Regions from separate parts of the Homo sapiens genome. Here region 2 is linked to region 1. The links come from fine-mapping of genetic effects on gene expression. A gene starts in region 1. The other region holds a variant in brackets. All regions are shown on one strand. Distances are between the middles of the regions. Region 1 holds the start of ATP13A5-AS1 (ATP13A5 antisense RNA 1). Region 2 overlaps MB21D2 (Mab-21 domain containing 2).

The links.
Region 2: its variant is fine-mapped to the expression of ATP13A5-AS1 in whole blood (TOPMed, PIP 0.96).

What each region holds. Positions count from the first base shown.
Region 1 is chr3:193,302,344-193,310,686 of GRCh38, forward strand. ATP13A5-AS1 (ATP13A5 antisense RNA 1) reads left to right here and starts at 4,901. Exons shown (of 2, transcript NR_046758.1): 1 at 4,901-5,057. It overlaps ATP13A5 (ATPase 13A5), which reads right to left. Exons shown (of 30, transcript NM_198505.4): 21 at 8,295-8,343; 22 at 4,984-5,026; 23 at 3,216-3,325.
Region 2 is chr3:192,849,773-192,858,115 of GRCh38, forward strand. The region is part of intron 1 of MB21D2 (Mab-21 domain containing 2); the gene reads right to left. Among named protein-coding and RNA genes, the nearest start is that of MB21D2, 64 kb to the right of the region's middle. RefSeq lists enhancers at 1,261-1,310, 1,341-1,390. The variant G/T (reference allele first, on the strand shown) is at 4,356.

The sequences.
Region 1 (8,343 bases):
ACACTGAGGATGGAGCAGAAGACAAGCTGAGAAGGGGCAAGCATGTGAAGTATGGATCGTTTTCCCAAGTCTGATATAAACATTGCGATTTCATTGTTTTTTTCTGCAATCGTGCATAGTTCCAGGAAAATTAAGACACCCAGATTCAAAGGAAAGTACAAGAAACTATTCTAAGTAAAGGATAAATGGGCCTCCAAAATTACTGCTATTCCTAATGATTGTGAATTTTAAGTAGCTCATGCATTTATCTACGCATTCTACAAACGTTCACTGAATGCTCTGATATACCCAGCATAGTGCTAGGCATAATGCTTGATACAAAAATCACTAAGACACAGTCTCTGCCCTAAAGGACTTGAACTATAGCAACAAGTAAATCATGTTTCAAAAGACAAAGATGAAAATCCGTGGATTTGATCCTATGCATCTAAAACTGTATCTCATTGCCTCTCTGGAGTGCTTTCTCAGGAATAAGTATGCATCAAGGATAGAAAAAGTAAAATGAGCCTAACAGAGCTGAACCATATCTAATTTTTATGAGTCTATGAAATATAAAAGCAAGGAGTTTCTACCCTAGCGTCTTACTGAGCCATCTGCCACTGGAGAAATTTTACATCATGACTTGTATTCCGTAACAGTACACTGCACTCATAAATGCACTGGGCCACATGCATGAGGAGGAGCATCTGAAGTTCGAATGCCACTGCATGTTGAATGGATCAAGTAGGCACTTTGCACTGTTATCCAGGAGCTCAAACTCCCTGCAAGGTCTCCACATCTGGTTGTCTAGCTTAACCACCACAATTCTCATCTGAGAAGTCTTCTAGCCCAGTTGCACCAACTGGCCCCTGCATTCTCCAGTTACAACACTGTGTCTAAACATGGCTGCCGCATTTTCCCCACCTGGAATTCCTTCTCACCTCCTTTCTGTTTACATAAGTCTCACCCATTTTTCAAGTTGCAACTCCCCTACTGAAAGCTTCCCTCCTGGCTTGAGTTCTCACACTCAACTGCCAGAACATTTGCTGTCTTGTTTGGACATTAATTTATTTCAAGCAAATTTATTGAGCACGTCCCATGTATCAGACATTGTATATATATAATTTTGTGTGTGTATGTGTGTGTATAAAACATGCCTGATGCATGAGAGACACTCAATAAATAATGTATATATTTGTGTGTATGTGTGTGTATATATGTTAATGTATGTATATATGTATATATGTAAAGGAGATATTTCTCCTTTAAAAAAATTCAGTCTTAGCTGTTAATGCGGTAACAGGTTTTCTGAATGGTGGATTATGACAGGTTAAAAGAAGACGTGAGGTAGCAGCACGTGATGCGAGAGTGGGACCTCAGCAAACCAGCTCTCCTTCAGCCTCCTCTGGTCAGGGCAGAAGCAATCCACATGGGAAGTGACCCACATCCACTTCATTTGTATGTGTGTGTGTATATAAATATATATACACACACACACATATTTATATATACATTCATATATATGTATATATGTATTTATGTAAATATATGTAACATGTTACACATATACATACACATACACACACACACACACACACACATAATTTTTGCTGGAATGTAAATTCTCCGGGGGCAAGACTCTCTCATTCTTTACATTTCCAAGCACACTTGTAAAGAGCTCCATGAGTTGTATTGACAATGGAAAGCATAAAATAAGGCGAGGGTTCTGAGTACTATCATCATGTAGTCACCATGACACAAACCAAGGTTAAGACACTAGAGATAGTAACCAAAGGGCTTAGAGATACTCTGCAAAATAAATCAGTAAAACATAATGCTTGTTTGGTTATGGGTGAAGAAGAGGAAGGAGTTACACGCACTCTAAGGGTCTGAACCTCAATGGCAGACTCCAAGGAGTAGACTGTTCTTAGAAGCAAGGAAAGTGGGAGTTGGGAAGAGGAGCTGCTTTGGAGGCAGGGGAAGTGATCGTGTTTGAGGGTGTGAAAGGACACACGTGCAGACACCCAGTGTTCAGGGTGTTGTGTAAAGCTGTCTTGCTGATATGCAGCCAACCAGGGGTGTGGAATTTTAGACCTGCTACCTTTAGGTCAGTGATTCCTGCCAGTGACCTGTTTATTCTGATGCACCAAAGGACATGCTGGGGAACTTCATGGCTGTCTTTTTTGTATGAATCTCAAAATCTGGTGATGGTTTTCAGATCACTGCCCATGAAAATGCCCAGAAATTATCCATAAGTGCTATAGGAAACAATAGATAAATCAGATTTATGAATAAAACATAAAACTGGGTGTTTTGTTCTTAACTACATTTAAAATATAAGTAGACATGAGATCAGAAATCAGAGTGGAGTGGAGGGGAGGGAAGCATGCTGTGAAAATAAACGTCTGTTAATGGCTTCCTGTATTAGTCCATTTTCACACTGCCATAAAGATTACTACCTGAGACAGGGTAATTTGTAAACAAAAGAGGTTTAATTGACTTACAATTCCACATGGCTGGGGAAGCCTCAGGAAACTTACAAAGATGGCGAAGGTGAAGGAGAAGTGGGCACCTTCTTCACAAGACAAGAGAGAGGAAGCACGCAGGGGAAACTGCCACTTTAAAATTCATCACATCTCATGAGAACTCCCTCACTATCATGAGAACAGCATCGGGGAAACTGCCCCCATGATCCAGTCAACAGGCTGGGAACCACAACTCCAGATGAGATTTGGGTGGGAACACAAAGCCAAACCATATCACTTCCCCTTCCCTGACACTGTCAATCAACTTTTTATGTAAAAGATATTGGATATTTACTAATTTGCATTTTGGAGACATGTAATAGTATTTAGGGAAGCTATCTAATGAAGTATTTCCTTTCTGCTTCCTCATCCATCCAAAATTCCTGAGAGAAATGTTACAGGAAGCATCCAACATACCAAATAGAGGAGAGAAAAAGTAAGAAATACAATTAGTTTTAAAACATCAAGTCAAGCTTTCAACTGTTTACATGATACCCACCTATCCTTTAAGGCTCAGCAAAAGTCACTTTTCTGTGGCTTTTACCAGCACTCTTGAGTAACACTAATGGCCCCCTTCATTGGTTCTCCAATAGCACTTCACCCATTCCTCTGTTGCAGCATTTATCACTTTAGCTTGTAGTTGAATTCTGTCTGCAGAGCCAGACAATGGGCCCATTGATTGTAGGGCTGGAAGAGGAAAAAATGACTTACCTGATGAGATGAGGCACACACTGGATGTTGGTTGTTTTAGAGGTAAAAGGGGATGCCACAGATGCTTCCTGCTCTGATAATGAAATGCCTGCATGAGCCGCTTTCAAAGCCTGGAATGATAAGCCCATGTCTCACCCATGACTTTTCAGGTTAGGCTTTACCTCTTAAAACACCAAGAGGCTGTTCTTCACATCATAAAGGTATAACACTGTACTGTTTCATCTTTGGGTCTCTGTTTAATGCTGTCCCTCCACCTGGAGTGCCCTCTCTCCCCTGATCCACAAAGTCACTAACTAAACAATGACCCAGAGGTAGAAAAGTGGTGTGTGTACATGCATGCGTGTGTGCATGTGGGCATGTGCATACAAGGGCCCTGCCTGTGGGGATTATAGATGTGAAAAGGAGATGGAAGCCCTCATTCAAAAACTCAATTAAAAAGATGACAGAATTTGGATGGACGTTGGTTGGGGACCTTCACCGTTTCAGTTCTTGTACCTGGTGGGAATCTTCATGAACAAAGGTGAAAGAATTCCTAGGCCGATCCTATAAGAATTGTGTGGGCATAAAATGAACTTTTATATATCTGTAGTTCCACAGAACTACAGAGTACCTGGCGCCATGAGTACATACTAGATTCAGGTTTAATAAATAATAGGACATTTTCTTCTTCCTCTTTGATCTCTAGTTCGTATCTCTATTATGTACTTTAGGACCATCTACTTTATGTTAGGGTTAGTTTTATTCATGATTCTTTCTTCATCAGACAATGAACTCTTTAGGAGGCAGAGACTATGTCCCTTTTTGCATTTGATTTTTTTGTTTTATTCTAAACGCCACATAATTAATGTGAGAGGATACGTATTCTAGATTTGAAAGAACAGACTAAAAATTAGCTTTTTCTCATGAAACATAAAGCAAAAAACATCTCTAGCTATAAAAATTTCTAGCTATAAACACAGTTTTCACAGAAATTTGGAAATAATATTTAAGAGAGAAATAAAACAAATACCAAGATCTTAAATCTCTAATAAGCTTTGGAAATACAAAGAAATCTTCCTCACTTCTTGTCCCATAAATCAGCTACTGAAATATTTCCTTAAGTACATAATCTTGAAGGTAGACTATTTGTTTCCTTCATGTCTTTAAAACTCAGAATATAAAACATTCACTGCCCTTCTACTGCATATGAAAAATAATTTGCTGATAATCATTTTATTTAGCTTTTTCTATAGCATAAAATAACTAAATAGTTTGGTCTAGGATTTTACTGAGTGAAAGAGTTCTGGGTGAAGCAAACTTAAAAACTAACCAGAGAATGAAAGTTTGGCAGGAATAAATATAATTTACATATAATTCAAAACTTTAATCATCAGTTTCAAACTTCGTTTCATTGAGTCTTTATCAGTTGTGTGACCTTGGGAGGGGGGAAGAAATCACCTCCTTGAGAAATCATTTCATTACTGATAACAGGAAAGATTTAAAGCAGATAGACTTGTAAAGTTCCATCTTTGGAACCTGAAATATGGGAGTCTAAGTAGCCTTCCTTTGTGTTTATTATTCTAGGAGTTTCCAGAAAGCATCGGAAGTGTCTCATCTCCCTTTACTCCCCTCCGCTTCCAACCCACACTCAGGTAGAGGTGGATATAAACAGCAAAATAATCAAATGGTTGCTGGTGGAAGGATGAAGAGACAAACCCCAGGAGAGCCTGAGGTCCTCCAGAGGGATATTAGTGAGTGGCTTGTCTGAGCAAAAGCCATTTCTACTCACCCCACAGTCGTTAGCTCCATCTCCACACATGCCCACATAATAACTGCGGGAGACAGGAGAAGAAGGATTAATAGGTAAGAAAAATGAACAGCTCACTTGAATATTTTCCATCATAACTAAGTCACATGTGATTTGTGTGTATGTGTGTGTCCCCTGAACACACCTGGAATCAGGCTGAAGAAAAATGGTTTGGAGAGACATATTCCCAGAGGGAAAAGGCAGTTGCGTTATTTAAGTTGTTTCAATCAATCACATTGAAATGGTAGTGATATAACCAAGGACATCGGCAAAACAGTGATTGCACACTTTAAAAGAAGTCCTGCTTGATGATACGCACCAAGGCCAAGCTTAAGAGTATGCAGTCATGAGCAGAGCACTTCCCACACAACCTAATGCAGAGATCATAACCCAATCCAGCTGCATTTTAGTCACTGACTGTTGCTGAGCATTTACAGCTCAAATACCAGGATGAGAAATTTCAAAAACAGTTTAACAGATATAACTAGAGACATATATTCATATTTTTGATGCATGTCAGGGTGAAAATAAGATATGTTTTCCATCTATATCAGTTTGGTGTGCAAGCACAATACAAATAGAAGAGTAAAAATTAATACGGCTGCCAAAGAAAAGGAGTTTCAGATGTAAGACACTGCCTGCCTTCTATTATAAGTTATACATTATAAGTATTGATAAATGACAATATTCTTAAAGACTTAGCTGCATTTTTCTAAAAACAGAGTTATGAAATCAATAAGGAGAAAAAATAAAGTTTTGTTAGCGTTTCGTTATTATTAGTTAATGCATAAGAAACAACCACTTTTATAGGTCAAAAACAGTTAATTAAATGTGGCCAGGCACGGTGGCTCACACCTGTAATCCCAGCATTTTGGGAGGCTGAGGCAGGCGGATCTTGAGGTCAGGAGTTCGAGACCAGCCTAGCCAACACAGTGAAACCCCATCTCTACTAAAGATAGAAAAAATCAGCTGGGCATGGTGGTGTGCTCCTGTAATCTCAGCTACTTGGGAGGCTGAGGCAGGGGGATTGCTTGAACCTTGGAAGCGGAGGCTGCGGTGAGCCGATATTGCACCGCTGCACTCCAGCCTGGGCAACAAAGCGAGACTCTGTCTCAAAAACAAAAAAAAGTCAAATGTAGGCACACCCCTATGGTTCAATCCGATACTGGGCTGTGTAGATGAAAATAATCATGCTATATATGTTCATGTCATGACTACCCACAATTGTTGAAAAATGGCTCCTTCTTTCAGGCTTAAAGCACATATTTAGTCTCTATATCACATCAAGAATCTTATCATCTTCTAGTATTCCCTGAATTCAGAAAGAGAATGCAGACAGCCTTATGCACATTGCCAATGACAAAGGCATGAGGAGGAAGATTGGGATGTTGAGAAGACAGCTCATTCTGAGGCAGTGTGTGTCTTCCTGAATTCATTTTTTAAGGGGAATATGGCTTTTCAAAGTTAGGCATTTTAGTTGGCAAAATTTCTCAGGCATTTGAAAAAGGTAAAATTACTTTCTTCAGCAATATCATGTAATGATCATGTGAATGAAATAGTCATTTAGTCACTGGTTACTTACCCAGCCTCAGGCATTCTGGAAGTTAATAGGCAGTTTGTAAGACTTCCCTATGAATGCTTGGGTAACAAAATCTAACAATAAAAGGGTGTCTCCTGATTTCACCAACAACTCACCAGCCATCATCTAAAGATTCACTACCCTATGTTCCTTTTCACTTCCTAGACTCTGCAGCCCCAAACTGTTACATTCCCAGAAACCAGTAGGTAGATCTGGTCTCAAGAAGTACCATTTCACTATAAGGTAACTTGGTCATCTTTATTTTTGAAGGGGGTAATAAAGGACTTTCTCTTGACTTTCCCTGCTGGGGCCAGATAAAGGCAAAATGCTATTTCACCTCTTGCTAAGAAGACCAGAAATTATTCACATATCTTCTAATGGACCAACCTAAAATAATTCCAGGGTATAACGCACCTACTTCCCCATTTTTCTGATTCTAAGCTATACAACCTGCCCCACTATTTCTGCTACATCCAAGCATGGGAGGGTTCTCTAAGATATATGCCTTATGGCCCACAGAACAAATGCTCTCTGGAATAGGTAACTTCTAAATGGCCCTCAGCGATCCCCAGCTCCTGGCATCCACGCCCTGTGTAATCCACTCCCCTGGACGTGGGCTGGATCTAGTGGCTTACTCCTAAGGAAGGGAATACGGCAAGGGTGATGAGACTGGCATATAAAAAACAGCAACATCCGTCTTGTGTGCTCTGTCTCTGGTTCTTCTTGCTTGCTTGCTCTTTTAGAAGTCAACTGTTGCACTGTGAGCTTCCTTATGCAATGGCCCCTGTCACAAGGAACTGAGGTTGGCTTCTGTCCGCTAGCCAGTGAAAAACTGAGGTTCAGTCCAACCGCTCATGAGGCACTGAGCATTCAACATGTGAATGAGGCTGGTGAGAGATTTTTTTCCCCACTCAAGCCAGTGCTTGAATTTTTTTTTAATCCCCTTTTTTAAACTTTTATTTTAGGTTTGGAGAACATGTGCAGATTTGTTATACGAGGGAACTCATGTCACGGAGGTTTGTTTTACAGATTATTTCATCACCCAGGAATTAAGCCCAGTACCCAGTAGTTATTTTTTCTGCTCCTCTTCCTCCTCCCACCCTCTGCTCTCAAGTAGACCCCAATATCTGTGTTTTTCTTCTTTGTGTCCATGTGTTCTCATCATTTAGCTTCCACTTGTAAGTGAGAACACAGTATTTGATTTTCTGTTCCTGCATTAGTTTGCTAAGGATAATAGCCTCCATTTCCATCTGTGTTCCTGCAGAAGTCATAATCTCATTCTTTTTTATGACTGCACTGTATTCCATGGTGTGTACGTACCACATTTTCTTTGTCCAATCTGTCATTGCTGGGCATTTAGGTTGATTCTATGTCTTTGCTATTGTGAATAGTGCTGCAGTGAACAGTCACATGCATGTGTCTTTATGGTAGAATGATTTATATTCCTCTAGGTATATAGCCAGCATTGGGGTTGCTGGTTCAAATGGTAGTTCTGTTTTAGCTCTTTGAGGAATTGTCATACTGCTTTCTACAATGGCTGAACTAATTTACACTCCCACCAATAGTGTATAAGTGTTCCCTTTTCTCTGCAATCTTGCCAACATTTGTTATTTTTGACTTTTTAATAATAGCCATTCTGACTCACACCTGAATTATTGACCCATAGGTAGCAAGAGTTAATGAGCACACTCTTCTTTCATGCCATGACACCTACTTTAATTTCTGAAATTCTTCAATAAGGCTTGATTTCTGCCCAGGAGACA
Region 2 (8,343 bases), 450 kb before region 1:
ATAAAGACAGCAAAAGTCCTTTTCTATATTATATATTGCTCACTCATATGTCCCAAGGACCTAGAACAACTCCTGGCACAGAAGAGCCTCATAAATGTTTGCTGAGTGAATAAACTGTCAGAGACAGAAACATGTCATATAAAAATTTTCTTTTTTTTTTTTTTTCGAGACAGTCTCACTCTGTCACCCAGGCCGGAGTGCAGTGGTGCGATCTTGGCTCACGGCAACCTTTGCCTGCTGGATTCAAGCAATTCTCCTGCCTCAGCTTCCTGAGTAGCTGGGACTACTGGCGCGTGCCACCACACCAGGCTAATTTTTTGCATTTTCAGTAGAGAGGGGGTTTCACCATGTTGGCCAGGCTGGTCTTGAACTCCTGACCTTATGATCCACCCGCCTCGGCCTCCCAAAGTGCCAGGATTACAGGCATGAGCCACCGCGCCCGGCCCATAGAACAATTTTCTGGGGTTCCACTAAGAAAAGACTAAGCTGGGACTTCTGATCTCCCAGGAGACAGACTCTACACTGAAGGAAAGAACCTGGGTGATAGCTCCTAGTAGAATCTAGACAGCAAGCTCCAGCAGAGTAACAGAGATGTGGACAGACTGTATACCTCTCAAGGCAGGCCACTGCACGGTCTCTGCAACTTGAGGTTCGAGGCTCTCAACTCTAGTACCCACCCACCATATCTCTCCTTCATTCCGTCATTCATCGCATGTGTGGTGAGCCGGGCAGCATGGTTAGACTTGCTTGTACTTCTCCACATTCCACAGAAAAGAGGTGCCTGCTATCAAGTCCCTGCCTGCACAGGCCAGGCCCCACCCAGATACACATACACGTCTGAAAACCTTTGGCCTCAGGCTCAGCCCTGCACGCTGCCGAATCAGCCCTGAGCAAACCTGTCAGTGGACTGGGAGCCCCGTCCCGTCTCCCTGCGGCCTAGATCCCCTGTGATGCCTCAAATCCACTGCGCACCATAATCCGAAGGGCAGTACAAATGACAAAGTACAGCACACTGTAACAGACACCCACGCCACAGGCCACCCCCAACTCTGAGCTACTGAACTCCACAGTCATTTAAGACCTTTGTAACTTCCTCCCACGTTTACACTCATTTTTAAATATGTCTTCTATCCTGTGACTCACAGTGTGTGGCGGGAAGAGTAAGGTTAAGAGCACAGACTCTGCAGTTAAACCAAGCTTGCTCTGCTACTTATTGTTAGCTGTGTTACCTATCTATGCCTTCTTCTTTACTGGCAATATGGCAATAGTAATTGCACCTATGAAGTAATTATGAAGACGAATGAATTTAAAAGGTAAAGCTCATGGAACAATGAACATAGAACACACTCAAGATATGGCTCCTATAAACAAAATGAGGTATAGCCACACCATAGAATAGAATTAAGCTATAAAAAGAAATGAAGTATTGTTACACGGATAACCTTAAAAACATTATGCTAAGTCAAAAAAGCCAGACACAAAAGGCCACCTATTATGCAATTCCATTTATATGAAATGTCCAGAATAGGCAAATCCATAGATTCAGAAAGGAGATTTGTGTCTGCCAAGGGCTGTTGGGGAGTGGGGAGTAGAAGGTGACTGCTAATGAGTATGGGGTTTCTTCTGGGGGCAATAAAAATATTCCAAAATTAGAGAGTGATCAATGTGAATTTTGTACATATAGTAAAACCACTAAATTGTACACTTTTTTTTTGTCTGTTTTTTTTTTTTTTTTTTTTGGAGATGGAGTCTCACTCTGTTGCCCAGGCTGGAGTGCAGTGCCACGATCTTGGCTCACTGAAACCTCCGTCTCCCGGATTCAAGCGATTCTCCTGCCTCAGCCTCCAGAGTAGATGGGATTAAGGGCATGCACCGCCATATCCCGCTAATTTTTGTATTTTTTTTTTAGTAAAGACAGGGTTTTGCCATGTTTGCCAGGCTGGTCTTGAACTCCTGACCTCAAGTGATCCCCCTGACTCGGCCTCCCAAAGTGCTGGGATCACAGGCGTAAGCCAGCATGCCTGGCCGATTTTTAAAAGGTTATTATTATTTATCTTCCTCTTCTTTGAGCTACTCCAAGACAGTGCCCAAGTCTTACTGCTGTATCCTCTAAAGTATCCAACACAAAGCAAGACATGCTGTCAAATAAACTAAGTAACCATGACAAATGTGGAGCCAAAATTTTCTAGGAAACATCAACAAAGACTAGAACAACTGGGCAGCTTCGAGGAATGATTGGCAAACTTGGGCAAAGTTTTATCCCCCAGGCATCTGGAGTCGTGCCAGTGTACACTGACTCACTGTGGCTGAGGGTCAAGGGCAGGTTCTGCCAACAGGGGAAATGATCAGAAAGCAGAACTGAGACAGACCAGTTCAGGGAGAGAAAATATGGGGCGAGATGCCTCCTTCATCCTTTCACCAGGATTCACACTCAGAGACACCACTCAGCATGCACAGCACCCATTTCCAAAATGCAGACCTATTTGTATGGTCACTCTTCAATCGATGTAATTGCTACAAAAGCTAATAAACTGGAAAGACAGGTTGTGAGGCGAAAGAAAGCCATAGGAAGCAAATAGCCCTTATTTCAAAGCAGCAGGTTTTTGTTTGCTTTGTTTTTTGCTTGAACTGACAGTCAGTAAAGTATTCTTAAATATATTCTAGCACTCAGCTGAACCACCTTGCAACCTGCTTCATATACAGGTTCTAGAGGTCATTTTGTAGCAGGACATTTTAAACGGGGGAAAAACAGAAGGAGAAATAAGCAATTGCCTCAAACAAGGAAAACAGTCTCTTTACTTCATAGTGAAAAGAAAAAACAGACTAAGTTTCTTGCATCCTTTTGAATCCAAAAGCAATAAATACAGGAAATGTTAAATAATGAGAGCAAAATAAAAACCAATGTCCATTTGTTAGTATGGCTAACATAATTGAGAGGTGGATGACTGCCAGAAGCAGGTGAAGGTCAGTTGACTGGCAAATCCTCCAATTTTGCCCTAGAACTTTCAGAATGAGCTCCCCACCACTGACCCCCACTTCCAGTCACTTTAACCAAGATGCCCATCATCCTCTGTCTGTAGCATTCTCACTGCATTTCCAAATTACTCCAGGTTTTCCTGTTCCTACTTTTATGACCATCTGAAATCCAGATTCTTAAAAGTGCTTTTTAAAATATCCCATCATCTTTCATTTCTGTTAGCTACTTTTCTTTCTCCTTATCACTGCCCTAAATCCAGTTTTCAGTTATCTCTCTCTGTCTCTCTCTCTCTCTCTCTCTCTCTCTGAGACCATTTTCATTGCTTTTTACCTGGTTTATATTCAGTATATTGACTTTCTGATCCATCTTCCATATAGTCCCAGCATTATAAATGGACAAATGAATGAATGAGGCCTAGACTCCTTAACCTGGTCTTTGAGACCAACCACACCCACCAACCACATCACCCCTCGAAGGTCTTCTCCCACTTCTGGACACTCACTCCACATCTCCACACCAACCAACCGCCATTCCATCCCGTGTTGACCCTGTCAGAATTTAACACTCCTTTCTTTAGGAGGCACTTCCGTGACAAATGGTTTTTCACACTAAGGTAGCATTTAATAGAAGGTAACTTTTATCACTGGACACCTATGCAGTTTCAGCTCACCACAGATTTAACCATGTCTTATCTATAATGCCTTACTGTGCCCCTAAGTACCTAAGTAACAAAATAGGGGTTGCAACAGCAGCAGTGGTGTTCCCACCTGAGTGTCACTCAATGCATGCACGCTGAATATGCAAATGAATCAATGACCCAAACAGAAAAATAGCTGAAAATATTTATTTTGCACTACGCTAAATGTTCCACATACATTTCTGGTGTTTTTGGTGTTTTGTTTTTTTTTTTATTCTCAAAAGACTTACAAGTACAGGCGCACCTTGTTTGATGGTGCATTGCTTTACTGTGCTTCTCAGATAGTTGTGTTTTTTACAAATTGAAGGTCTGTGGCAATCCTGCATCGAGCAAGTGAGCACCACTTTTCCAACTGCAGGGTTCACATGCGTCTCTGTGTCACATTATGGTAATTCTCTTAATCTTTCAAACGTTTTCATTGTTATTATATGTTATGGTGATCTGTGATCTTTGATGTTACTATTGTAATTGTCTTGGGGCACCATGAATCACACTCATAGTGTGTTCTGACTGCTCCACAACCAGCTGTTACCCCAGCTCTCTCCCTCCCCATGGGCTTCCCTATTCCTTGGGACATAACAACTTTGAAGTTAGGCCAGTGCATAATCCTACAGTGGCCTCTAAGTGTTCAAGTGAATGGAAGAGACACATGTCCTTCACCCTAAGTCGAAAGACAGAAAT[G/T]GTTAAGCTTAGTGAGGAGAGCATGTCAAAAGCTGAGATGGGCTGAAAGGCAGGCCCCTTGTGCCTAACAGTTCGCCTAGCTGTGGATGCAAAGGAAAAGTTCTTGAAGGAAATTAAAAGTGCTACCCCAGTGAACACATGAATGATAGGAAAGTTAAACAGCATTGTTGTTAATATGGGGAAAGATTTGGTGGTCTAGATAGAATACCAAAAGCCAATGTCCAATCCAGAGCATGGCCCTAACTCTCTTCAATTCTCTGAGAGCTGAGAGAGGTGATGAAGCTGCAGAAGAAAAGTTTGAAGCTAGCAGAAACTGGCTCATGAGATTTAAGGAAATAAGTCATCTCTATAACATAGAAGTGCAAAGTGAAGTCACCAGTGCTGCCGTGGAAGCTGCAGCAAGTTATCCAGAGGCTCCAGCTAAAATAACCGATGAAGGTAGCTACAGTAAACAGCGTTTCAATGGAGATGAAACAGTCTTGCATTCAGAGAAGATGTCAATGCAACTTCCATAGTTTGAGAGAAATTAATGCCTGGCTTCAAAACTTTAAAGGGCAGGCTGACTCTCTTGTTAGAAGCTAATGCAGCTGGTGACTTTAAATGGAAGCCAATGTCCATCTACCATTCCGAAAATCCTAAGGTCTTTAAGAATTACACTAAATCTACTCTGCCTGTGCTCTATAAATGGAATAGCAAAGGCTAGATAACAACACATCTGTTTACAGCGTGGTGAATTACTGAATATTTTAAGCCCACAGTTGAGACCCACTGCTCAGAAAAAAAGATTCTTTTCAAAATATTTCTGCTCACTGACAATGCACTTGGTCACTCAAGCACTCTGATGGAGATGTACAATAAAACTAATGTTGTTTTCAGTCTGCTGATACAATATCTATTCTGCAACTCATGTACCAATGAGTAATTGTGAAGTAAAATTGAAGGCTCAGATGATTATCAGCATTTTTTAGCAATAATTCTTTTTTTTTCCAAGATGGAGTCTTGCTCTGTTGCCCAGAGCTGGAGTGCAATGGTGCAGTCTTGACTCACTGCAAGCTCTGTCTCCCAGGTTCAAGCAATTCTCCTGCCTCAGCCTCCCGAGCAGCTGGGATTACAGGCACCTACCACCGCGCCTGGCTAATTTTTGTATTTTTAGTAGAGACGGGGTTTCACCACGTTGGCAAGGCTGGTCTCTAACTCCTGGCCTCGTGATCTGCCTGCCTCGGGCTCCCAAAGTGCTGTGATTACAGGTGTGAGCCACTGTGCCCAGCCAATAAGGTATTTTTAAATTAAGATATGTATATTTTTAGACAAAATGTTATTGTACACTTAATACAGTATAGGGTAATGGGAAACAAAAAATTTGTGCGATTCACTTTATTGCAATATTCACTTTCTAGTGGTGGTGTAGAACTGAACCCACAATATCTTTGAGGTATACCTCTATGCAGTATCATCTCCATTTTACAAATAAGGAAACTGAAGTTCCAGTTTCTAAAACACAGAGTCAAAACACAGAAGTGCCAGGATTCAGTACTAGGTCTGTATACTCTAGAACCCATTCTCTTGATGACTAACCTCCTCTCCACTTTCTCTCTCCTCCTTTTCTACCTCCTCCATTTACAGGATAGAAAATGAAGCTTCAAAGAAGTTATAAAGCAAGACAGTCTGGGCATGGTGGCTCATGCCTGTAATCCCAGCACTTTGGGAGGCCAAGGCAGGAGGATCACCTGAGGTCAGGAGTTCAAGACCAGCCTGGCCAACATGGCGAAAGCCCATCTCTATTAAAAATATAAAAATTAGCCGAGAGGTAATTCCAGCTATTCGGGGGCTGAGGCAGGAGAATCACTTGAACCTATGAGGCAAAGGTTGCAGTGAGCCGAGATCGTACCACTGCACTCCAGCCTAGGTAACGAAGCAAGATTCTGTCTCAAAAAGTAAATAAAAACTTAATAAGAAAATAATAATAATAAAGCAAGACAAAGGCAGAATCAGAGACCTACATGTTGTCATGTTTCCAATGTTCAGAATAAAATCACTCAGGAGGAGACTCTGATTGCATTCAGAGGGGACACTCTGGTCTTATTAGAGGTCTGGTTTGAGGCAGTAACTTACAGTCGCTTGCACACAGACTCTAACACTAAACCTGGAGACTCCACACTTAGGTTTAAAATCCAGCTGCAATTCTTTTAACTTTGCAACCTTGAGCAGATCACTTCACTACTCTAAATCTCAGTTTTCCCATGAGTTAAATGAGAATCACAATGCCTATCCTACCTGATTGCTATAAGGAGAAATAAGGAAACGGGAAATTAGGCAATAAGCACCAGGAAGAAAAGACCCAGTTAATCTTTCTCATGGCTCTACCTCAGCACCTGGCATTGCCCTTGCGTGTTTTCTGAAATCTGAATCACAGGGTTTTGTTTTTGTTTTTTGTTTTTTTTCTCTTAAGACAGTCTTGCTCTGTCACCCAGGCTGGAGTGCAGTGGTGCAATCTCAGCTCACTGCAACCTCTGCCTCCCAGGCTCAAGCGATCCCCCTACCTCAGCCTCCGAAGTAGCTGGACTACAGGTGCACTCCACCAAGCCCAGCTAATTTTTTTATTTTTTGTAGAGGTGGGGTTTCACCATGTTGCCAAGGCTGTTCTTGAACTTGTAGACTCAAGCAATCTGCACATTTGGGCCTCCGAAAGTGTTGGGATTACAGGTGTGAGCCACTGTGCCTGGCCAAATCACAGCATTTTTGGTTTTTCTCTTATCTACTAATTATCTTCTGTCTGTTTGAGATCTAAGCATAGTAACTGATTTAAAAAGAAAAATAATAACAATGATGAGGACATTATTATCACCCTAAAACATAAGCAAAGGAAAAAATGATCACATACTACAGCCAGCAAACAAGAAAAAAGTACTTGCACTTCATTACAGCTGCTATGACTGCATGCTTTTCACAATAAAAGAGACTTAAAGGTAGAAAAAAGAAAGGCAAGCAGAAATATGAATAAATAGATTAAGAAACCCAGCTGATATTCTAACTGCCTAATCAAAAACAACAGGCCCTGCAAAATAATTGAAAGATCTGCTCAGAGAGAAGCAATTGAAGGCTCAAATTGAACAGTCTCGGCAATTTGTGGGAGAAGAGATATTCTGAAATGGCATAATGTAAGAACAAAGAACAAAGCATTTTTATCTGGCTCCCAAACAATTAAATGAACCTGCCAATTCCATGTGGAAGATGGGCTTTAAAGAACTGCAGTCGTGTCAAGGGAACATTCAAAGTCAGCCAGAATTCATTAGATGCCAGAGGAGAAACAGCTACAGATTTCTAAACAGGCATCTCCAACCCAGGCCAGAAGGAGCCGAGCACAGCCTAGAGCTGCTGGAGACTCAAAGAGAAACCATTCTTCTATCCCTTTCAGCGTGCGCATCTTGCCGAACTTCTGGACCCAGTTCCTGCCATAAGCGTGACTACTCCACGTGTACATAATCCCTGTGGAATTACAAAAATTAGGCTAAAGAGAAAAAAAAAAACCTGGTTGTGGGTTAGGAAGGCATATGATCAATCCTGACTCTGCCTTCCATGCAGATAGGGAAGAAGACTCCTCCTTCTGAGACCATCTCATCTGTGACATGGGACAAAGGTGGAAACATGCTGCACGAGGAATTCAGTTCATAAGTCAATGGATCTGGCAAAATCACATATGATAAAAGCGGCCTTAGGTCGGGCGCAGTGGCTCACACCTGTAATCCCAGCACTTTGAGAGGCTGAGGAGGGTGAATCACCTGAGGTTGGGAGTTCGAGACCAGCCTGGCCAACATGGAGAAACCCTATCTCTACTAAAATTACAAAAATTAGCCGGGCATGGTGGTGCATGCCTGTAATCCCAGCTACCGGGGAGGCTGAGGCAGGAAAATCGCTTGAACCCAGGAGATGGAGGTTGCGGTGAGCCAAGATCACACCACTGCACTCCAGCCTGGGCAACAAGAGCAAA